Regions from separate parts of the Homo sapiens genome. Here all the other regions are linked to region 1. Evidence: fine-mapped expression QTL. A gene starts in region 1. Each other region holds a variant in brackets. All regions are shown on one strand. Distances are between the middles of the regions.

Region 1 (8,177 bases):
CAGGGCCGGGACTAGTGGGAGGCACCCAGGGCTCAAACTATGAGAAGGCATTCACCTGGAGGGGCTATCTGCACCTATGCCCACCCAAGAGTGAGTGCCTATTACATGGTGAGCCCTGGGAACAAGTTCGCCTCCCCCTAGCACCGGCCATGGTGAGTGGCTAAGTGGTAGCATTATGATTTGAAGTCAGGTCTTCTGATAAACCCAGTGCTCATTCTGTGATAGTTCATTTGCTCTCTCATTAATTCACTCAGCAAACGTGCAGCGAGCCCCCACTATGCACAAGGCATGTGCTAGGCTCAGGGGTGCACCAGGCATTTCTGAAGGACAGAGACTTGCTTTCTCTGCCTCAATTTCTTCATCTGTAACATGCAGGTTGTTATAAGGATCTGGTCGACTCTGGGCCGAGCCAGCATGCTCACTCTGGAGGCAGAAATGGTCACCAAGAGGGGCCCAGCCCACCCTGGCCTGTCCCCTGCTTCATCCAGAGCTACCCCTGCCTACCCTTCTTGGCCCAGGAGGCTGCCTGGATGTTTATTTGGTTATTAGATAACCAGGCCTGGGCACCATTTCTTTGATCAGTTACCCCTGATAACAAGCAGAGGAAACAGACCATTTTATAGCAAGATTTTGTGGGGTGATCTTATGATCCCATGGTGTTTTTAACAGGGACAAGGATGAAGAGGTAGGCATTTGGAGGGGAGGGGGAAGGAAAAGAGGCCCTGCTCTGCAATACTTTCCTCCTGATTCCCCCTGGACTTTGATTCTGGGGGAAGGGGTGGTGTGGGAGATAAACGTGGAGCAAGAAGGCTGGGTCCCACTCACAGACATCTGACTCAAGGCCGCTTCCCTCACACCCAGCAAGACCCCCTGAATCCTCCCAAAACCTCACCCGCAGCAGCTCTGACCACCCAGCGAGGGCCCCTGCAGTTAACAGCCCAGGAAAGCCCAGCTACGGAGGCCAAGATGCGATAATGCCCACAGACGTGACTTAACGGCCAACACAGAGCTGAGGCTTCTCCCCAAAACAGCCTTATGATTGCTGCCGTTTCAAAAGCTCTCAAGCGATTACTCGGTAAGAAAGAGGTCAGGAACCAAGCGTATATCACCCTTCCCTGAGCAAAATGCAAGATCTGGATAACATAACTTTTTTCTTTTTTTGATTAAAAATAAATATATGTTTGAAGACAATAAATGAGTTTTAGCTTCGGTTCCTTCTTTTGCTCTTGTTTGATCTGCTTGTGAGTTGAGGACAGCCTTGTTCAAACACTATTTGTCCATTTTCTTTGCTTTTTTCTATTTGTGGGGTAAAATCTGTGTTATCTCAACAGGGTCAGCTCACCTGCATTGCGCTTCTGTTTCCTCACCTGGAAAGTGAGGAACGCTGGACCCGTCAGTCTCCAGTGCCCTTTACAGCTGCCCACACCCTCCCAAGTGTCGCCCCATCACAAGGGTGAGGATGCAGCAGGCGCAGGGCCCACCTGTAACTCTCAGCCTCAACAGCTGGGGTTTAGCTAGGATGTAGAAAAAGCACTTTTTTTTTTTGAGACAAGGTCTTGCTCTGTCACCCAGGCTGGAGTGCAGTGGCACAATCATAGCTCACTGCAGCCTCGACCACCCAGGCTCAAGAGATCCTCCCACGTCAGCCTCCCGAGTAGCCGGGACCACAGGCATGTGCCACTACACCTGGAGGATTTTTGTATTTTTTCTAGAGATGGTGTTTTGCCATGTTGCCCAGGCTGGAGAGAAAAAGTACTTTGGAGTCGTGTTTCCCCCATTATTCACACACCTCTTCGAAAAGAAGCCGTTATTATAAAACAGGCCTTTTCTTTTGGGGTCCTCAGATTTGGAAAGGAGCAGAAAACCCAGTGAGACAGGACGTGTCCTGGAGACACAGCGCGGTGGTTGGAAGCAGGGATCCGGGAGTTCTGCCACCTTCCAGCTGCCTGGCCTCAGGACAGTGGCCCAAACTCTCTGAACTCAGTTGCCCCAGTTTGTAAAATGGCCTGACCGTAATTCCCACTTCTTGTCAATTTGTTCAGGTATAAAGTACATGCATATAAAGTACTCAACCTAACTAGTGCCTGGCCCATGCCACAGTCTCAATAATTATCAGCAAATCCTCTCATTTATAAATAAGCCAGTACAACTATTAATACACAAGCATCATACTTTGTGGAAAAGTTCGTATCTCTAACAGCAGTACAATAAGTTCTGAAAATACTGAATTATGACCCTATGTAGGACATCAATGTAACACCCATTCTCCCCACAAAATGCCACTAATGCGTGAACCCCCATCAGCCGCCTGGGACTTTGAAATACCCACATCCGGAAAGCCCAGAGACTGAAGTCTCAAATGATTATGGCCAGAATAGCATGTAGTTTTAACTTTTTTTTTTTTTTTTTTGAGATGGAGTTTCACTCTTGTCACACAGGCTGGAGTGCAATGGCATGATCTCAGCTCACTGCAACCTCCGCCTCCCAGGTTCAAGTGATTCTCCTGCCTCAGCCTCTGGAGTAGCTAGGATTACTGACGCCCGCCACCACGCCCAGCTAATTTTTGTATTTTTAGTAGAGCCGGGGTTTCACCATGTTGGCCAGGCTGCTCTTAAACTCCTGACCTCAGGTGACCCACCCGTCTGGCTCTCCCAAAGAGCTGGGATTACAGGTGTGTGCCACGGCACCCGGCCTTAGCATGTAGTTTTTAAACTACCCATAATTGTAAATTTTGTACATTGAAAGACCCATAATTGCCACAAATAATCACAATTATGCAAGTATAAATAATCACCCTGCACAACTCTCCTCTTGCCCACAAAGTTATCCCTTTCATGAGAATTTAATATGTGACAATGGCCATTGTCTGCCAGGGAAAGCTCATACCGATTTCAGTTTCAGCAAGGCCACCTCGAGTCTCATAGAAACCAGAAAAAAAAAATGTCATTTTCAGGAAGCAAATTGATCGTTTTCCTCACATTTCCATTTGCGTTAAGATCATGGTGTGGCCTTGCTCTGGACTTTTTCCTATTCCCTGTTGCCTCTGGAGAGGAGGAAAGCTAAGGATGGCTGGTGGGCCCACATCGGGGGTCCCTGGGTGGATTGAAGGGCTCTTGTGGCTCCTGGAAGCCTCGCCCAAGTTTCTGGTAAGAAATCAAAAGGTGAGGTGGTGTCCCCTGTTCCCCTGTGGGATGATCAGCCCACAAAAGTGGGACAAATGAGTCTATAAAATGCTTCAGAGGGGCAGGTGGACTGCTCACTCGTGAGTCCCGGGAAACAGGCCTGGCCCAGTTCTCCAAACCTTTCCCCAGGGAGACCGCATCTCTGTCTTCTCTCTTCTTCTCTCTTCTCTCTTGTTCTCTCTTCTCTCTCTTCTCTCTTCTCTCTCCCCCTCCCTCCTCCTTCCTGGTTCTCTTTTTTCTGTTGATTTCACTCCCTCCTTTCTTTTCCCTTTCTCTTTCCTCCCCTTTCTCTCTCTTTCTCTGCCTGTTTCCCCTTTCCTCACTTTCATTTCTCTTTCTGTCTCTTTCTTTCTCTCCCTCTCTCAGGTCTCTCTTCTCTGTCTCTCTTCATCCTCAGTTTTCCCCTCTCTCCCCTCTTACTTTCTTTCCCTTTTTCCTTTTTCTTTCCATCTTCTTCCTCTCCCTCTCTGGGTTCGTGGCAACACAAGGAAACCCGCACATCCCCAGCCCGCAGCCTCGCCCCCTCGGTCCCACTGCAGTTACCCGGTGATCCATGCAGGTGGGAACAATCCAGTTAACTTTTCCCATCCGAGTGATTCTCTTTCTCTTCTTCATTCATAAATGCCATAACTCTCCCGGTCCTCCTTTCCAAGGCTCGTGCACTTGATTTCAAGGCTTGCCTGCCACCCAGGGTGCCACCAGAGTCCCAGTGCCTGGGTTGGGGGCTGGAGCGCACCCTTTGGGATCCCCCAGCCTGTCCTCCGCCTCACGGCTGCCTCGCTTCTGAGCTGCCACCCTCAGCTGACTCACTCAGATGAGATTTGGGAGGGAGGGGGGCAGGAGGAGGAGTTGCGAGAAGGAGGAAAACCCGCCTGGTCGGGTCCACACTTTGCCTAGATGCGTTTGGGTGTGGTGGGGAGCGGGTGACGGCCTCATTTACAGACAGAGGCCGGGGCTGGCTTCTAGGCGACCGGGTTGGCCACTTTCACTGCGCTTCTGGGTTTGCTGGGATCCAAGTTGACGCGACTTTTCCAGGAGTAGCTGGAAGACCTGAATAGAAACTTCAGGGGTCCCAGGACTGGCGGGGCTTAGAGGAACTCCCCGCCCCGCTTGCCCTTCCAGGGAACGGCCTGGCTAGGGGTGCGCTTTGACGCAAGGAGCGCATCGCTCTGCCTTGGCCGGGACCAGAGCTTGGGGGAGGCCTCCTTGCCCACTGCGAAGACTTTGGGGAAGGCGACGGCCAGGGGACGGACATCTGGGGGAGGGCTGGGGGTCTGAATGGCAGGAGCTGCACCAGGGGGCTGTGCGCGCTGCGCGGGTGTGCGCGCCTCGCCGGGGGCTGTCTCCACCTCTTCTGGCAAGTTGGACCTATGAGTGCGCAGCTCCGCTTACAACTATCAACAGCCGGGAAGGCTGAGCGCGTGTGAGCGCCGAGGGGGGCGCAGGACCCTCGCAACTTCTTCGCAGGACTCCAGCCTGGCCGCCGGCGCCCGCAGCCGTCCGAGAGCCCTGCGCCCGCGCCTCCCCTTGCGCACCGTGGCAGCGCCCGGCGGGCGGTCCTGCCAGCCCCGACGGGATGCCCGCAGCCATGCTCCCCTACGCTTGCGTCCTGGTGCTTTTGGGAGGTAGGTGCCACCCTCCCCCACCCGGCAAACTGGCTGAGCTCGGAAGGGAGGGAGCTCGCCGTCTAATGTCCCCTAAGGGCCCTTGGGGACTACGGCCCTGGGTCGGCCCACGCGGCTGCTATGCTGCGCCCTGCGCGCCTTTCTCCAGTCTCACCTGGCCGGCACCTGCGCGCCTCCAGGAGCTTCCTGGGGCCTGCGGGAGGGAGTCGCGTCACCTCGCAATATGAGAGCCGCTGCACTCTCTGCGCCAGTCGGGGCCTGGCCTGTAGGTACCCAGAGCTGCCCTTTGTGCCGGGCCCAGTGGGACCGGGGCCTCCAAGAAGATGCAGGAGGATCCCAGGCCCACTGAGACCCCCATGGTGCGGGACAAGCCCGGCTATTCAGACCAAGGTTACTGGGGTTGTTTTTGCCCACGGAATCCTGACCTGTGCGGGGTCGGGGCTTCTTCCTGCAGCAGGACTCGGGGAGAAGCTAGGGAGCGCGCAGTGACCCCAGGCTCGAGTTGTGCCCAGCAGGCCTGACAAAGGGGACCAAGGGGCTTCAGGAACCCCTGGTAGAGTAGTCAATGCCTTCTCCAGGACTAAGGGGTTCCCTGGTGGCTCTTCGTGGGGGTGGGGAGTAGGGTAGACAAAACTGTACAAAGGCCAGCTGACTGGAGTGTGCCATCACAGGGGCCCAGTCACCACTGACAAAAATGACAGTAACCACAGTTGAAGTGTGCCCAGCTGGGGGCTCATCCCCAAGCACCCTCACATTATGAATGGCTGAGAATTCTGGCCCTGGAGTTAGACCACCTGGCTGGGAAGCCCAGATCAACATCATATCAACCCGTCTGGCTTTGGGTAAGCATGGCCATCGGCTCTCTCAGCCTTGACTTTCTTTCCTGTCAAATGGGCTCACAAAATCCCCTCCTCCGTCTGGGATGATTGTGAAGATTACGAGAGCACGTGCAGGAGGATCACTCCACTTGCTGCCTGGCACTGAGCTCATGTTCAGGGAATGGCAGCCGAGAACCCCGGGGTGAAGAGGGGCTGCGCGGTCCCACAGAGCACGCTCTGCTCCATGTATAGGCAAGGAGCAAAGTCTAAGTCACCTCGAGGAGCTCTTCAATCACAGTCTTTTCTTCCCAGCCCCCAAATTTCTAAACAAGCTGTTTTGAGAAGAACTGGCAGGGGTCTGAAGGAGGGTCAGGGGAGGGTGCCTCCGCAGTTTGAAGAGTTGCAGATTCACCTGTCGAAAGGGACATTCATCCAGGGGCCGCTTCCCCTGCCAGTCTGGGAGCGAGAGGTGACACAGCTGTCCTTGGCCACAGAGTTAGTTGATCATCAGCATGAAAATAGACCACCTCACCCCTGCTGGTTCTTTCGAAAGGGCAGGAAAATGCAAACTGGAAAGGGTGACAAGGGGGCCAGCTGTGGAAGCGCGCCTCTGCTGGGTGCTGAGATAGGGAGGACAGGATGGGGAAACCGGGTGTCCATCTGCTCTCATCCGCCTCCTCCAGGCCGTTGCACCCAGTGGGAATGGAACAGTCTAGAGTGGTGGGACACATGCCCCAGGAACCTGCAGTCTCAGTCACAGCACATGGCTGTTGTCTTTGGCAGGCCGGAGCTTCCCGTCATGCCAATGAAATCACTGTGAGTGTAGAGCCGTGGCTGGCTCTTGGGGAGTCTTGCTGCCCAGCTCCTCGGTGACCTTTCACCACAGCAAATCAGACAGATTCAACAGCAGAGAAGCCAAGAGTGCCCGGGGGCCTGACGAGAGAGGGGGGCAGCCTGCCCTCAATTCAGACACAGCCACCAGAAAGGGGGAGGGTGCCGTTCAGCCTGCCACTGCAGCTCCCAGCTCTACACCGGGCACTATTTTCCACTGAACGCTTCTTTGAAAAGCTCTTTTCACCGCTGGCTACATCACCAGGTGATGAGATCCTTTTGCTTTAGTAAAAGGAAACAGGACCCAGTTAATCCTTCAGCTACTGACATAATTTAGGTGCCTGAGCTGGGCACGCCTGAACTTCATGTCTCCAGGTTCCAGAAACTATATATATAATGGCACACCAGCCACCCCACCAAGAGAATTCAGATTGAGTACACACACGTTAGGGGTTCTTAACCTCGCCGCTATTGACATTTGGCACCAGAGGATTCTTTGTTGGGGATGAGGGGCCCGTCCTGTGCATTTTGGGGTGCTTAGCAGTATCCCTGCCCTCTTCCTACAGATGCCAGTTGCACCTCCTCCTAGTTATGATAACTGAAAATGTCTCCAGATATGACCACATGTCTCCAGGTGATAAAGTGGCCCCCAGTTGAGAATCACTGGTATGAACAGATCAAACCCAACAGGTAGTTTTTCAGACGAATCCGTCAAAATCACTGGGTTAGACGGATTTTGTTATTCTTGCTCTGAACGATCAGGAAATCAAAGGCACAGTGGGGCCCCAAGAAAAACAACATAGCTTAGGTAGTTTCTAATTTGGACGTTGATTTTTCCCATTTGCTCTCCCTCCCTCTTGTATCTGAACATGTCCGCATGGCGGCCGCAGGAGCCAGGCTGCGGTATGGGTAGTCACCCACTGCAGCGAACCTTCCTTCAAACCCTGTCAGGCCAGATGTGTCTGGTGCCAGTTCTCCAGCTGCCAGTGTTGGTTCACTCCACAGCAATTTCTGGCTTTTAAAAATCTCATTACTCAACAATTTATGCTGGAGGGGGAAAATGAGAAACCATAGCTGCTGCTTTTTTTTCGAACTTGTATTTTTTTTTTCTAATTTCAGCTCTGCTTTTATCTCTCGCTATATACTTTGCGATGGCAAGTTATCATTTACAGTCAGATTAACTAGGTCAAAATCACAAGCTATTCCATAATAAATTAGTTGATGTGGAGCTCTGCCTTGAAACCCAGAATAAAAACTAAGAAGAAAATTACTTAAATACACTCATCCAAAAATCTAATGTGAATAGAGACCCGTAATCGTATTAGTTACTTAAAACAAACAAAAAAAATTATCAATGGAGACTTCCTCTTGCTACTGTGTGAAGTGCTTCTCGAAGATGAATCACTGTGGCCAGCTGTGCCACTTATCTTCTGACCAAGGCTGTAATCTCAAAATTCAAAACAACCAGCTCCAGGCAAATACAGCAGCTTCCTTGATTTCAAAACCATCTGGATGGCAAAGCAGTTAGAAGCTACACGTGAAGAAATATTTTTGCAATATATTGGAAGTTAACTATGCTAATGAAAGCTTAAAGCCAGAATGAGCCCCTGATAAAACTTCCAAAATACAGTGGTTCACTGCCAAAACCAGCCTGGAAAATGAAGATCAATAGCCCAATGCAAAGGGAAGGAGAAGCCATTAAAATTGGTTTGAGCTTGAGG
Region 2 (8,177 bases), 97 kb before region 1:
CACACTGATCTGCATGGCTGGCCCACACCTCTCAGTTCCTCAAACCTTCCAAAGAACACCAGCAATCAGAGATGCTGGGTTGCTCCATCACTGTTGGCCAAATGACCTCGGGAGAGGAGAAGCAGAGCAGGGTTTGGGGAGCAGACCCCCACGTCTGACAGCATACCAGCTCAGAGCATGGCGAGAATTCCAGCACAAGGTGCACACATTTTTTTGCCCATGGCTGTGGTGACCCTGCTGTGTGCCAGCCTCAGCCCCACAAGGTCACCTGAGCTATGTTCCTGGTCCCAGCTCACCCAGCCTCTTCAAGGAAGCCGTTACCTGCACCGTTTGATGGGTTAGGGCCCCTGAACCCAAACATAGCCCCTTGATCTGCCTCCACCCCACTTTCCTTGCCAGGTCTCTAAGATCTAGCATTCCGTGGGCCCCTGCCCTGCCTCCATGGCCCCAGAAGTGCCAACCATACTGGTGCCATGCTGCCTCCAGCTCCGAGCTGGGGTGTCCTATACTCAGCCAGTGGCTTCTGCCTCTCCCCTGGTCCTTTCCCCCTTTCTCTCTCCCTTTTGCATGGAAAGCATTTCACACTCATTCCTCTAAAAACAGCGTCACGGTTGGGCCCAGGCACCAACCTGAGCTCTCCCTGCCCACCTGCCTCGCTGCTCTTGGTCAGAGGAAACACATTAAGGAGAGGAAGAGCGTGTGGACAGCTGTCCTGGCTACTCTTTCCTGTACTTCCCTCAAAGCAGCCCAGCCCTGGCCTGTTGGGCCGAGGAACCGTTTGCACCCTGCAGACAGTGGGGATCCCAGGCGTGGGTTCGTGCTGCCTGCATTCTCGGAGTCCACAGGCCCGGCGGACACACACATAGTGTCCATGATGACCAGGAAAGCACACCATGGTCCGTTGTGGGGCTGTGGGTGGTGATAGTGGGGAGGGGGGGTACACTCTGGGATCAGCTTGACTGTGGGTCCCCTGCCCAACGGCCGTGAGACGCTGGCTGAATGGCTGGGCCACTAAAACCTCTGTTTCTTCATTGGTGAAATGACGATGGCTGTTGTGAGGTCACAGTGAACAAAGGCAAGCAAAATGGCTTCGCCTTGCACCCGGAGGACACTCCGGTGATTGGCAGCACATTGTTGATTGACACATATACTGCTGAGGTGGCACACACAACCACATGGTCCGTGTCTCTCATTTCTAAACAAACATGAGCTCATGCAAGGACCTGGTGCCAGGCAACTTGGATCTAGGCCCACAGTGAAGAGGATCCTGGGGCCAGAGGGGAGACGCGAGGACGAGGTAGGGGCTCACCTGCGCCAGGCACAGTTGCAAATGCCTTACGTATACCAATCACCCCCTACTCCCCACTGTGACTCTACAGGGGAGGCACAGCCATTAGCCTCATTTGACAGACAAGAATGGTGAGGCTCAGAGAGCTGAAGTCACTGCCCCAAGTCACAGAGTGAGCTAGTGGCAGAGACTCATGGAAGTTGTCCTCCAACAGAAATCCCAAACAACATGGGCTCAGGTCCGAGGTGTACTGCTTAGGAGCTTGGTGGCTTTTGGGGTGCCCCTTGCACTCCTGTGCCTCAGCTTCCTCACCTCGGGACAGAGGTGCATGTGCCCACTTCTGACTGAGCCTCCAGGGTGGAGGAGGATGAAGGGCTGCAGGGCTGCACGTTGCATATACCCCAAAGTGGCGGAGCATCCCTACTGCCTTCGGTGCCATTGGAGCACCCAGGGACGCATGGGTGAGGCAGTGAGCCGCCCGTGTAGCCTCACCTGCTAGAGACGGGAGCACATGGAGGCCCTTGTGCGGCCCTGAGCAGTCAGGTGGGTCACCCTGTGAAGAAAGGGCAAAGCAGCCTCACTAGTGACCCCGGGACCCAGGGAGGCTCCGTGCACAGGCTGCCGGGGCTACTGCTGCTGCCGGAGCCCCTCTCCCAGGCCAAGCCTCTGCCTGCTCCAGTGCGGATGTATAGGCAGATGTGTGAGGGTTGGGCTGCTGAAGTTAGGGCTCTCTGAGGCCCCTGTCATGTCAGGGCGGCTCCCAAGCAGCCTGTTCTCTGCTGCCAGCAGCATCTCCCACCCCACCGTGAGGCTGCAGCTCCCTCCTCTCATGCCCCTAAGGAGACAGGCACCCTGTTCTTTGCGTGTGCTAAAGCACCGCACCCCTATTTTTGCCTAGCTCACTCCCGCTTATCTTTCCTCCAGCCCCAGAAGGGCCCTGTTGACCCCTAGCCCCATTCTTTGCCCCCAAGACACTCTGTCCTTTCTTCCCTAGCTCAGGGCTGCTGGGAGAGCCTGATTCGTCGTCTCTCTACCCACTAGACTGCAAACTCTGAGGGACTTGTGTGTTGGGGTCTCTGGGCCCCCAGCATCCAGTGCTCTAGGAAGAATTGTGGAAGGACAGGAGGCAGTGGGGAAGGAAGGTTTCCTCTCATACCAGCCAAAGCCAGAAGGGCCCAGTGAGTGTTAATCAAAGAGTCCTCCCTGGAGGAGGTGGCTGATGGGGCCTAAGAGGTCTGGGCCCAGCCTCAGGACCCATTGTCTGCTGCTGTTGCCCAGCTTCATGTCTGATCCCCACACAAACCCTCCTGCCATTGACCTCTCCCGGGGCTGGGGCCGACACAGCCTTGGGCCACTGTGTCCCGGGAGAACCAGGGCCCGTGTCAGGCCTTTCCCTCCTTTTCACCGGCCTCATCAGGGCATTTTTGGAGAAACAAATTCCCGGCATCTCAGGGCTGTGGGCTGCTGGCGGCCAGCTTCCTGGTTTGCCCAAGACTAAAGCAGGCCCAGGGGCCTGGCATCTAATCTGGGGACCCTGATGGTGTTGGCCGGCCGCGTAATTGGCATGAGGTGGCAGCGGCAGCCACTGTGCCAGGGGACAAGTCCATGAGGCTCCTGAGTACCTGAAGTCCGGGCCTTATTTAATTTTGTCCTTTTCAATTAAAATCACCCCTCTCTCCCTTCTGCAGAAACAGACAGGCTCAGACAAACATGGAGTGAATTTCGTTCCAAGATGGTTCCCCACCACCTTTTTTCTTTTTCTTTTCCTTTTCTGTTTTCTTTTTTCTTTTTTTTTTTTTTTTTGAGGCAGGATGTTGATCTGTTGCCCAGGCTGGAATGCAGTGGCACAATCTCAGCTAGCTGCAGCCTCAACCTCCCGAGCTCAAGCAATCTTTTCGCCTTAGCCTCCCAAGCAGCTAGGACCACAGGCATATGCCACCACGGCTGGAGAATTTTTGTATTTTTTGTATACACAGGGTCTCACTATGTTGCCCAGGCTGGTCTCGAACTCCTGGGCTCAAGTGATCCTCCTGCCTCAGCCTCCCCAAGTGCTGGGATTACAGGCATGAGCCATTGCACCTGGCCTTTTTCCCATTTTCTTTCCTGAGTACATATCTCTAACCTTTCTCCCTGGAACATTAATCAGGGTCTGTGCTCTAGGAAGCTCCCACCTCTTCTTCCCTCTGTCCCTCTCTTCCTTTTTCTTTTTTTACTAGGGAATGGCCAGTGGCTGTGTCCTCAGAGGGTGGGGAGGGAGAAGCAAGCACCACACGCGGTGAATACAGCTTCAAATATCTGGAGCTTCGGGAAGCCAACGCCATCCAAATGGTGTCTTATGTTAAAGCAATAGAGGAAAAGTGAGAAAACTTTTCTACCTCCACCTCCCACCCAGCCCCCTCCTTAAAAGGAAAAAAAAAAAAGGTTTCTGTACACTCAAGTTCCCACAGTGATACAATGTAAGTTTTTAAAACAACACAAACATTGACCTTGGCAGATGGCCCCGTGGAAAGAATAGGCATTATCGACACAACGGAATGACTTAAGAAGACAAGGTGCCTCCCCAAGGAAGCAGAGAACATGGC[G/A]GCTTTGCAAGAGTCTATTCACAGGACGCCAGAGTCAACAGGCCCTGACCCCTGCGGGCCTGAGGGGGCCCCAGACAGCCCCTCCCGCAGCCGCCTCCTGGAACTCTCTGCCCTTGGGTCCTCAGGGTGCCTTCACTTGTTGATTGTGACCTTACGGATTTAAGAACCCAGCCGGGGTGTGCTTTCCGCCAGGCACGGGGGGCCACAGTGGCACCCTCTGCCCCTCAACCTGGCGGGGGACACAGGCACGCTTGGTGGCCAAGACTTCTGTCCCATTTAGGATTGAGGAGCAGATCCTGGGGAGCTAGCCAAATACTGTTAGCTGATCAGTGAAAGCTCTGGTCACTAGAAAAGAGAGAGGGAGGAAGAGGGAGGGAGGGAGGAAAAGGGGGGAAGGAGGGAGGGAGGGAGGGAGGGAGTCTTCCTCTCAAGCCAGCATGGGTCCGAAATCCAGCTCTGCCCTTTCTAACCATGAGACCTTGCAGGCGTTCCTCAAACCACGTTTGTGACACGAGAGCCAGTGACAGTTCCTGGCTTGCGGGTTGTTGGAAGGCAAAAAGGAAGCTACTGCTTTACAAACACACACTTAGGTCAGAGCCTGGCCCAAGGCTGGCACAGTGACTGTTTTACCATGGGGGAACGAGGCCAGGAAGGCATGGCAGGCAGGTGGCTCCAGGTGGGACCTGAGGGAGGCCTGCAGGTTCTGGCCGGGGGCTGTTGGCAAGAGTCCTGCCCCAGGCTCCAGCTCTCTGGAAGTGAATGTGTGTTCCCTCCATGCCCTGGGAGACACCAGGCTGGGCCAGAGCCAGTCCTGGCCTCATGGACTGTCTGCAGCACAGAGCATTTCCTAGGACCTCAGGGCCAGGAGCCCAGGCCTGTACTCATCACCTCTAGAGAGGGGGAAACTGAGGCCCAGAGAAGTCGTCACCTGCCCAGTTCAAGCTCAGTGTCCCCCACTGGCTGGAGACAGCCAAGAAACCCTGTGCAGCCCCACCTCCCTCCCCTGGCACCTCCACCTGGGGGCTCAGTGGCAGGGTGCATGCCACATGGTCTCCAGGCCTGTGCCCCATCCAGCCACGTCCCAGCCAGGCAGGGTGCTGCTGTGGCCATCCTCTCTGGGGACCGGGCAGAAGGAAGTTTCCACAGAGGTGCTCTGAGCTCACAGAGCCTGAGGGCCTCCCAGGCCTTGTCTAGTCGTCAGCTCTGATTAGTGCCACCTGTCCTGTTTATCCGGATTTGCTGCCTAATCAAATCCTGAGTCCCTTAGTCACCTTGCTTACGCGTCCAGAGGCAACAGACAAATTTTAGGAAAATGCTCCTTGCAGAGAAATGTAAGTGCCAGGGCCTGAGCAGTGTTGCATTCCTGTGCCCTCTGAAACCTCCCAGGCAGAGTCCTTTCCCTGGGTCCTGGGTAGGGGTTCCAGAAACTTCCCTGAGATATTGACACAAAAGGAATCTCTGCTGTCAGTGTCTACAGCTGTAAAATGGGATGGCAACCGCAGCAAATGACGAGCGCAGCCAAGGTCTCGGTGGGCTTCATCCCCACAACAAGCAGGTACTGAGGGCTGGCGGGGCCCTGGACTGGGAAGTGGCGGGCAGGAAGCAGGCAAGACAAAGCCCCCAGCCCATGGAGCTTGTCATCTTTCACGGGGAGAAGGACAGGAAACACGCACACAGAGAATGGTTGTTCGTGATTAGAGCAACACAAAAATGAAACAGGGATATGATGACGAGAAGACCTGGGGAGGGGAGGGGAGGGCGTGTGACGTCCACTTCACCCTGGATGGTCTGGGAAGGCCTGTCAGGGGAGGGGACGGTTGACTGGGGGACTTGGAGGCTGAGAAGGCCCCAGCCACGGGGAGAGAGTTCCAGGCAGTGGAATGGCCTGTGCTAAGGTCCTGAGGCGGGACAGGCTTGCTGTGTTCTGGAGCAGTGGGTGGCCAGTGGGCTGATGAGCAGGGATGGGCGGGCAGGCTGGACCACGTGGGGCCTCGTAAGGTCTCCGTGGGATCCCAGGAGAGCGAGTCTTCACTGTGGGTCCGGACCAGGAAAGCGAGGGGCTCACCGTCTGGGAAGTCGTGTGAAGGGGATAGACTCCTCCCTCCCCACCTCAGCCAGGTCAGGCATGGAGAGGGTAAGGGGGCAGCTGGCCGCAGTGGCCCAGGCTCCCTGCATGTGGAGCTGGGTTATGCATGGAGGACACGTTGCTCTGAAGTCAGTGCTCAGATAGGGGTGTTCCATAGAGTCCTGAGCACCCTGCCACTGTGCAAAGTGCTTCACGTGCTCGGTTGGTGCTCCTGCCCTAGGCTGGCACCCGGCCCCTCCTCTGGAGCCCAGGACAGCCCTTAGTGGTTGAGGCTAGAGCCAGACCAGATGCCCAGGAGAAGCAGTTAGGGGCCAACCTTGAACCTCACCCTTCCTTACAGTTTCCCCTCAATGAGCACCATTGACCCCCAAGTTCCTTGCATGTCATAATTAACAATCTTAATCAATAATAATCATAGCTTGCATTTACTGAGTGTTTACTGTGTGCCAGGCACTGAACTACACATACCACACAAATCAACCCATCTAATCTACACAAAACTGCACGAGACAGGTGCTCTAATTAGCTCTGCTTCCAGATGAGAGAAACTGAGGCACAGAAAAGTCAAGCAACTTGCCCAATGTCACACAGCTGGCAAGTGGCAGAGCCAGGAAGGGACCTCCAACAGTATGGCTCCTAAACCCAAGCTTGCAACCAGTCCTTCCTCTGTGACACCTGCTGTGAGTAGTAATAACAGCAAAGCAGCTGAAGTTTGCTGAGCACCTGCTGTGTTCCAGGAACCATCTTTGTAAGCTTTTGCCATTCTTCACCCCTGCAAGGAGGCTTTTAAGGCATTTTTTCCTAATAGCTCTCTCCGATGACACTTTAACGCCACAGGTATACTGGGTGTCTGTTTAGGTACTGTTCAGGTATCCATGCTTTAAATGTAAAGAGTAAAATATGTTTTTCCCCCTTGGGAAGCAAATTCCGTCCTGTTGGGACTGCATGCTCTGCCCAGATGAACTCATTCATTCCTCAACAACTCCATAGGTGAGGAGGATGATGATTCCTGTTTTGTGATGAGCCTGAGGTTCAGAGAGGTCCAGGGCTTGTCCCAGGTTGCATGGCTCGGCAGTGGTGAAGCGGCCCCACCCAAGTCCACCTGTCCTGGTGGTAATGCTGAAGTCAGTCCTCCAGCCTAGGCAGGCCACAAACCTACACCAGAATCATCTGATCTGGGGCCTCTGACCTTTCTGAAACCAAATGCCTCCATGCCCATGTGTGTGCGTGCTCCTAGAAGCAGGTGATTTCGGGAGCCCCTGACCCAAAGAGCGGTCTGGAACGGCTGTGACACTCGTGCGGGCTTCGGAAAGACAGCTTGATCCCGGCTGCGGACTGAACATAGGATGTATGTATGTGCTCTATTACCTGGCTCCATGTGCCAGGTGCTGCACCAGCCCAGGAGTTCCTAATCAGGGTTTTTCAAGCATCGGGGGTCTACAGGTGGGCTCCCTGAAATGGAAGGGGCTCATTGGAGGTGGTAGGTGCTTCTGGGAGGCCCACTGTGGCCTCTGCAGTTGGAAAACACAGTCACTGCCCCCCACCACACACCCAGACCTCCCGACTGGCACTGCACAGACACCCTGGCCCCTGTCTTTTGCAGAGAGGACGTTGAGAGCACGGGGGAGAATCGGAGCCAGGTGGGACTGGTTGACTTCCCAGGCTGGGCCCACTGACCTTCCTTCTGAGAAAAACGCTTGTGGCAAGTAAATCCAGGCCTTCGCCCAGCACCCAAAATAGCTGGCATCTCTGGCCTGGGCCTCCACGTCCTGATGAACAATGGGGCATTCTGCGGCCCCAGGCCTTCCACACAGCAAGCTAGGACCTGCTGAGCCCATCCCGACAGTGACCCCGGGCCCCAGGCCCACACATGCGACCCGAATGGCAGGTGTGGGCTGCCTGGTTTCCTTCAGCTGGGGCAGGAAGTGCCAGGCAGCAGTCTCAGCCCACGAGGCAGGGCCTGGGGCAGAAGCTAGGAGGGAGTGAAGAATGAACAGACAGACAGACAGCGAATGAGGCCAGACCCTTAATGGACCCTGGCTGGGACATCCCCCAGGAAGCTTCCCTATGATGATGGGGACAGCGCTGTGTCCTAAAGCCTCCAGGTGCTGCCTCGGTGTCTCCAGGTGCTGCTGCTGTGCCAAGGGCCACATCTCCCATGGGTGGTTTGTAATGGAGCTCAGCCACCTCTCGGTCCTCACTCCCATCCTCTCAAGCCCCT
Region 3 (8,177 bases), 28 kb before region 1:
ACAGCCAGTGTCAAAGCTGGGAGCAGGAAGAGTAAAGCAAACACCACGAGGCATTCATTCATTCATTCATCTATTCATTCATTCCACAGATATTTTCCCATAACGGCCACAGAGCCAGGCTGGGGAGCCTCCGTCATCCAGCCTGCTCCTTTGGGCTGCACCTGATCAAGTTTTTAGGGTGATTTGGAACCAAAATGAAATTCAGTACAATTCAGAACATATTTATTGAGCAGCAGCCATATGTTCAGCATCATCCCGGCTGCGTGGGGAATATCAAAAGGGGGGAGACATGGTGGCTGTCACCAAGGATCTCGCATCTAATTGGGGAGATAAGATACACACACAATACAAGGCAATTATGGTAAGAGCGTACATTTAAATACCACTCTCCTGTTTACCCACATTTCATATCAGCCTCTCTACATTGTTGGAGCCTCTCAACAACTTGGGGAGGGAGGGGGGCAGATATGATAAGTCTCATTTTGTAACTGAGGGATCCGAGGCTCAGCGGGGTCGGGAGGCTTGCCTCAAATCACCCAGCCATAAACAACAGCCCCGGACGTCAGCCAGGGTCGCAGGCTCCCAGCCTGTGGTGTGTTTCAACTAATCAGTTACACTGATTAAATGCCCGGTGGGGGTGGGTGGGGGGCAGCTGCCGGGGCTGGAGAGCTGGCCCTAGCCAGGCCTCCAGCGGCTCCTTTCTGGGGAAGTACAGGTCATGTCAGCCTTGCTTTGAATCCTGCCCCAGTTTTCCACCAAGGAGCCCGATGGCAGCAATGAAGGAGAGCCCCCTTCTCTTATCACCCTACTCCTGTAAGAATCCTATTCCACCTAGAGGGAAAAGAATAGGCAGTGAGTCCACTCAGGTCATCTTGAAGGCAACCCAGGGAATACGTGGCTGACTCAAGAACCCTGGACGTCACAGATTGGTGCCGATCACATGCAGACCACCATTTTACCATCAGGGCAAGCATCAATTTTAGGGTACCATGTTAACAAGGGCACAGATGATGCCAGAACCCAGCTGTCCCCAAAATCCTGGCACAGGGCAGAGCAAGCTGGGGCACACCGTGGGCACTACAGTTGAGAACCTGAAGGAATGAGCCAGGCCCGCCCTGGCTCTCCAAAGGGTGGCCTTCTCGGGCGCTCAGCCTGATTTTGCTCAATTTCTCCTCCTGCCTCTTGTGCTAAGTTAGAAGGACAGATGACATCATTCCTCCTCAGGCCCATTAACCACATGGATCGATGGCAAGAAATAAAATTTGGATTCTTCAAAAATCTCCACAGCAGATGGCCCCAGGAGACCAATTGCAACGAGATTCCTAATTAAATATAATTAAATAAGCATTAAGAGAGAGACTGATGCTCCCCTCTCCACATTACACCACTCTGTGCCAAAGAGTACAAAATTGAGAACGCCATTGTCCGCAAAAAAGCCACAAAGATCATTCAACTCCAGCCTCTGATGACCGAGCTGGGAAAACTGAGACCGGAGGGGCTACAAATTCAGCCAAGGTCTGCAGGATGTGGGGCTGACGACAAAAAGCTGACTGAGAAACTGACTCATGCACAAGTGCCCATTCTGGGGTCATGTTGTTAGCATCTAAAAGGCCCGGACACTTGCATGCTGGGCGGCCTTGGGCATGATCCTTTAGTCTCTGGGCCTCTTTTTCTTTCTTTCTTTCTTTCTTTTTTTTTTTTTTTAACTGAGTCTCACTCTGTCACCCACGCTGGAGTGCAGTGACGTGATCTTGGCTCACTGCAACCTCCGCCTCCCAGGTTCAAGCAATTCTCCTGACTCAGCCTCCTAAGTAGCATGCCACCACGCCCGCTAATTTTTGCCTTTTTAGTAGAGATGGGGTTTCATCATGTTGTCCAGGCTGGTCTCAAACTCCTGACCTCAGGTGATCCGCCCACTTTGGCCTCCCAGAGTGCTGGGATTACAGGTCTGTGTGTCTTTTCTTCTTCTAAGATCAGTGCCTTAGAAGTATGATGTGAATCACATCCATAATTTTTTATTTCCTAGCCACATTTTCAAAAAGTAAAAACAAATGGGTACACAATCAAAAGAATACAATTTTCGTTATACATTTTATATCACCCAAATCCCAGCATGTAATCAATATAAAAGTTATTGAGTACTTAACACTTTTTTTTTTCACCTCAAGTCTGAAATCTGGTGAATGTTTGACATTTACAACTTGTCTCTGTATGGACTGGCCACATTTCAAACGCAGTAACGAATGGTGACCATATTGGCCAGTGCGGGTCCAGAAGATGGGCCTGAGATAGTCTCTCACAGGTTGTTGTGAGTTGGGTTTTGTTTTTGTTTGTTTGTTTGTTTTTAAATAAACATGATGTGGCTGGGCATGGTAGCTCAGGCCTATAATCCCAGCACTTTGGAAGGCCAAGGTGGGTGGCTTGCTTGAGCCTAGGAGTTCAAGACCAGCCTGGGCAACATGGGGAGACCACATCTCTACAAAACTACAAAAAATACAAAAGAATTTAGCCAGGCGTGGTGGCATGTGCCTGTGGTCCCAGCTACCCGGGAGGCTGAGGTGGGAAGATTGCTTGAGCCCTTTCAAAGGCAGAGGCTGCAGTGAGTGGTGATTGCACCACCGCACTCCAGCCTGGGCAACAGAGTGAGAGTCTGTCTCAAAAAAAATAATAAAATAAAATAAACAATTAAGAAGATAAACATGATGTGAAATGTGCTTAGCAGCATCCTCACGTCTCATTAGCACCCAGTGAATATTAGCTACGATGATTATCAGAAAGCCAGTGTCCACACAGTTCATCCAGAAAGCACGACAGTCCATGGCTCCTATTTACCAAATCTTCTCTTTCAATTCCCTTCCACAGACACAACCCCTAACAGAACAACTGTGGGGGGAGGGATTTCTTTAGTCTCTGGGTAAAGCTATCAAAAACAAATGGCGGCTTCTCGAGCTCGCCCTTAAAGCAATCGGTGGATCCCAAGATTAAAATTCAACTGCAGCCAAATTGTGTTATAAACGGCTTCACTCCACCTGGGGTCTGGACGCCAGGCAGATGTAATCCCCTCTCCTGGGCATACACTGATGGAAACCCCGCCTCACTGCACCAGCCAAAGCCTTTAAATCAGCCGTTATTCCCGGCCTGACATGAGAGTTACAACAGGGTTTTACAGGCCCTCTGCAGGGCTCTCTAAATTTTGTGGCCGTAGCTTCCTATGGCTAGCAATCCAAATAAAAATAGTGCTATTGATCACAAAGGCATCAATAACGTCAGCCCTAAAGCTACCTGTGCACATTTCTAATTGTCCTGTCCTTTTTATGTCTTTAAATATTACCATAAGCTCTGAGAGATTCGCTACCTCTGATTGGGAAGAAGGAAATCACCCCCTCCGCTCAGTCCCAGGCATTGGAAAGCAGTGGGGAGGAAAACTCACGCGCTAGGAATAACTGTGAAGTCCCTTTTTGTAAAAAAGAAAATAAAACACTGGCTCCCATGTTGAGCTTGGCATTATAGTTCGTCAGGAAATGCCGCCCAATTATGCCTAATTTCTCATTGTTTTTCCGACCGGTTTGCGTCCCAGCAATTACGCCTCGTTCGCAGTAAGAGAAAAGTAAAATGCCCAGCTGGTAGACTGATCAGAAAGCCGACAGCCAATAAATTAATCAAGAAATAAGGAATGAATGCTGTGTTTGATGTTTGCAAATCACACA[T/C]GTGGCTCTCCAGATGCTTGGACTTAATTTTTACCACCACAAAAACCAAGAAAGAGGAAACTGGGAGTGACTCCAGCAGCTAAGCAAACCCTCCCCAGCAAAGCAACTGTTCAGCTACCTCTGGAATCTTCTCACCTTCAGCATACTGCCAAGAAAAAAGAGCACCCCCACCCACCCACAAACCCCCAAGAGCCTTAGGCATGAACCTTTCTGGGGTCCACGCAAGTGTGTGCAATGTGGAAGAAAATTATGGGCTCCAAAATTCAACAAGAAAGCCACAAAATCAAAATTAATAAATGCTTCATTAAACGCCTGCCAACTATAGCAGTGCAGCCTCCTCACTGCTTGCTGGGTGCTGTATTGATGATGTCGTCGTCATAAAAACTGCATTACGTTTGAGAAAACCATTGCAAGAATGCCTAAGGATGCCTATTGGTTGTGGGGCAAATCACAGGTAATTGCAACTTTGATGAATTACCTGCTGCTAGATAATTTAAGAAGCAAAATCATTAAACTCCTTTCAAATATTTTTACTGCAAACAAACTATAGTTAGTGTGGGCGTATTTTAATTCGTTTGATACGATGGGGAACAAGGCTGCCAAATAAAACACCCCCCTGGACCTAACAAGAGGCCAAGGTGTGTGCAGGCTTAGGCCGCTCTTCAGGTGCCCCCCGGGGCTGGGGGCCCGCTCCCTCAAACAGGTAGCTCAGGAAGCCCTAGCCATCTGCAGGGATCCGGTGGCTGTGTTCCAGTAAAGGCCAGCAAAACATGTCCAGTCTCCAAAGGGGACGGACACCATCATCTTTGGCATTCATGTCACGCTTCAAAGGCCAGAGTCCCCCGCTCCCCCTCCTGCAATGAGCCACCCGTTTCTGCCGCTGCTCTCCTGCGTGTCCACGGCTGAGGGTGCGAGCTGGTAATTACATGCTCGCTTAGGCAGGGACGCTTCCAAGCAGCGCTGGAGAGCTGATTAACCACCTGGTTTGTGGGCACAATTCAAAGGGGCACCTGGGAGGCAGGCCACAGTGACTCGTAGCACGGTTGCCAGGCGGATGTGTGCACAAGGGAAAAAAATGCTCCCGTGTCAGGACAGCTCCATGCTCTGCCTTCCCAAGGTCTCACCCACTCAGCCAAAGACCCTGGCACTTTGAAGGTTCCCTGTGGACATGAAGGCACCCTGGAAAGGGCTGTGGGACCAACAGCTCCATGAATTGCCACCAGGGTGATTTTGCGCCCTCTCACCCAGAAGCATTTGGCAATGTCTGAAGACATTTTTGGTTGTTGCAATGGGAGAAGGGGCTGCTCACAGAATCCAGTGGGTGGGAGCAGGAAGGCTACTAAACCTCCCGTGATACACAGGTCAGTCCCCACCACCCCAGTGACTCAGCCCCAAAGATCCGTCCCCACCACCCCAGTGACTCAGCCCCAAAGATCCGTCCCCACCACCCCAGTGACTCAGCCCCAAAGATCCGTCCCCACCACCCCAGTGACTCAGCCCCAAAGATCCGTCCCCACCACCCCAGTGACTCAGCCCCAAAGATCCGTCCCCACCACCCCAGTGACTCAGCCCCAAAGATCTGTCCCCACCACCCCAGTGACTCAGCCCCAAAGATCTGTCCCCACCACCCCAGTGACTCAGCCCCAAATGTCAGTCGCACATCAGTTGAGAAACTCTGACTTAGAGAACCATCCAGACCCAAGCGGCCTGCCTCTTGAAGAGTCTTTCCTGGGGACTGCTTACAACTCAGGAGGGCAGGAGAACTGAAGGTGGGGGCCCTGACAGTACACCCAGGTCTCCAGGCTGGAGGAGAAACTGTGTGGGGTCTCTTGGGTTAGAGAAAACCTCCTTTTTTTTGGCAGCCCTTGGAGCTGGATGTATTTTTGATGGAATCAGACCTCAAATGAGGTTGTGAATCACCAACTTCAAGAAGAAAGAGCTCTCCCGTTATGCCCATAAGTTAAAGACGAGGCACCTTAGTGCTCTCCTCAGGAGCCTCAAACCTCCAGCGATGGGTTCCCTGTCTTTTCTCTCTGTGAGCAACATTCCGTCCTTTCATGTAGATTTCCCTTTTAAGGAGAGTTGGTTCTGTCTGGGGCCAGTTTAGATTATTTTTTCAAATAAAAGAACATCAGAAAAGATTAATCATAGCCCGAAATGGAAAGGGACGAAGCTGCAGCCTGTCGTGACCTTCTCGTTTGCTTCGTGATAGCCTGCCTAGCCTTGGATGGAGGCCGGGGCTGGAGTGGGTGGTGATTTTTTCCAAGTGGCCCTCAGCTCTGAACCTCACTCACTGCAGTGGCTGTGATAACTTCTTGGATTTATGAATAAAGTGGCAACCTTAAAAATATTCGTTTGGAGTTTCACAATGGAAGTAGTGATGATCAACACATTCAGCCACTGTGTGATCAGATATAATTTGGGGGCTGTTGGTGGAATTGCCTTGTGTTGGCAAAGGTATGAGATTAGCACTCTGAAAAAACAATAACTAATTCCCGTGTTCCTAGGAGCAGGGTAGATATTAACTCTATTTTCCAGGAGATGAAACTAACATAGAAAGGTTAGGCAAGCTTTGCCCTGCTCCACAGAGAACTGGCCCTGGAGTGGAAATTAGGACCCCAATGTTGCGGGCACCAAACAAGGGATCAAACCTTCATCCACATGACAAATTACAGCTTGAAAAATCCCTTCATCGGTGCTCAGGCCTGACAGCACCCCATAACCACTGATTCGAATGGAAATAAGGATGGAGAAGAGAGGAGAGGGCTGCAGAGGAGAAGGTGGGAGTGGGGAGGGCCCGGATTCCCAGCAGGCATGAGAGTGTGTGAGCTGCACTGAGAATTTCCCCTGATGCGAACCTCCAGCTTTTTTCTAGTTCCAAACACCCTCCTTGTAAATAGGAGGATCTGAGAAACATCTCTGGAAGCAAAGCCCCATCAGCCAATTCCAGGGCTTACAGCTCGGCTGCAAGATGCAAGGAAGAGCCACGATGGATGATTCTTAATGGTGGGAGAGGAGTTCTGAAAAATGACCCTTTGCTTTCTTTCATAACTTTTCAGGAAACGCTGCACAATTATCCTTCTCTTTCCTTGCTTAAAAGTTGAACTGAGCCATTAACCTCAGCAAACGAACACAGGAACAGAAAACCAAATGCCGGATGTTCTCACTTGTAAGTGGGAGCTGAACAATGAGAACACATGGACACAGGGAGGGGAACAACACACACTGGGGCCTGTGTAGGGGGATAGTGGGGGAAAGCATCATGATAAATAGCTAATGCATGTGGGGTTTAATACCTAGGTGATGGGCTGATGGGGGCAGCAAACCACCATGGCACACGTTTACCCATGTAACAAACCTGCACATCCTGCACATGGATCCCGAAATGTAAAATTAAAAAAAAAATTGAACTGAAATTAATTTTTTAAAAAACGAGCTAGTTGTAAAAGAAAACCATAATGTCCCACCAGTGGGTAATTTCTTCTTGATTAAAGATGGGGGCTGTTGATAAAGCTGATGCCCACTAACTTCATAACAAATGGAGATCCATGTCTCATGCTCTTTTATGACTTGAGCCTCGTCTGGATGGGTTTTCCGTGCAAGGAGGGAACATTTTAGGATGTGATTTTTCTTGTAAGAAAGTGGAACAAAGTAAACAGGAGTGGGATCACTGGGAATTGGGGGATGGGGGTGGGTACCGTGGATGAAGGTGGGTACCATGGTGGATCAGGCTGGCAAACCCCAAAACCTCTGAGGAAGCTTAACAGACAAACAGACATCACGTGGAATGAGGCAGTACAAGTATACAATGACAACTCTGATGAATTCTTGCCAAAAAAGTCAAATATGAACATCATCAAACTTCTAGATCTTACTGAGAGCTAGCTACAGGTTTGCAGGACACACAGGGGACAGAGGAACATATCAGAAGACACCATCCCATCAGCAAAATCAAGATTATGGCAAAGGCTACAGGATGGGTGATATGGTTTCCAATAGAAAAATAAGAAAATAAAAAAGGGAATGGAGATTCACTAAAGATTTCCAAAACCAAATCAACCAAATGCAATGTGTGGATCTTCTTTGGATCTTAATTTAAACAAAGCATTTATGAGGCCATCAATGGAATTGCAACATTGACTGGGTATTATATGATATTTTAAAATGACTGTCCATTTTTGAGGCACAGTAATGGTATTACATTGTAGTGAATGACTTGTGAATGAAATGATAGGATGTGTTCACTTTAAAATAGAGGTGGGGAGAGAATATGGGAATTCAGTGAAACAAGATTGGCATGTTGATAACGGTTTAAGCTGGGAGATGGTTACATGAGAGTTTACTATATGATTCTATTTTTTATAGACTCAAAAATTTCTGCAATGAAATATGGGAATTTGATGAAACAAGATTGGCATGTTGATAACTGTGGAAGCTGGGAGATGGGTATATAAATTTCTGCGGTGAATA

Which allele goes with the higher level. Alleles are on the strand shown, and positions count from the first base shown. SD is a standard deviation of normalised expression in the study named.
With allele A in place of G in region 2, the expression in aorta of the gene that starts at base 4,087 in region 1 is higher (small effect, 0.39 SD a copy in GTEx).
As copies of T replace C in region 3, the expression in monocytes after Pam3CSK4 of the gene that starts at base 4,087 in region 1 goes down (large effect, 0.89 SD a copy in Quach 2016).

What was found.
Region 2: its variant is fine-mapped to the expression of APCDD1L-DT in aorta (GTEx, PIP above 0.99). The same link has a PIP of 0.9 or more in breast.
Region 3: its variant is fine-mapped to the expression of APCDD1L-DT in monocytes after Pam3CSK4 (Quach 2016, PIP 0.95). The same link has a PIP of 0.9 or more in monocytes, monocytes after LPS and monocytes after R848.

The regions. Positions count from the first base shown.
Region 1 is chr20:58,511,289-58,519,465 of GRCh38, reverse strand. APCDD1L-DT (APCDD1L divergent transcript) reads right to left here and starts at 4,087. Exons shown (of 7, transcript NR_034147.1): 1 at 3,726-4,087. APCDD1L (APC down-regulated 1 like) reads left to right here and starts at 4,067. Exons shown (of 4, transcript NM_153360.3): 1 at 4,067-4,807. The coding sequence starts at 4,759. RefSeq lists an enhancer at 4,466-5,464.
Region 2 is chr20:58,608,247-58,616,423 of GRCh38, reverse strand. The region is part of intron 6 of APCDD1L-DT (APCDD1L divergent transcript); the gene reads right to left. Among named protein-coding and RNA genes, the nearest start is that of LINC01711, 22 kb to the left of the region's middle. RefSeq lists an enhancer at 5,924-6,425. The variant G/A (reference allele first, on the strand shown) is at 3,871.
Region 3 is chr20:58,539,374-58,547,550 of GRCh38, reverse strand. All of the region lies in intron 5 of APCDD1L-DT (APCDD1L divergent transcript), which reads right to left. Among named protein-coding and RNA genes, the nearest start is that of APCDD1L, 28 kb to the right of the region's middle. RefSeq lists enhancers at 989-1,490, 4,769-5,968. The variant T/C (reference allele first, on the strand shown) is at 3,708.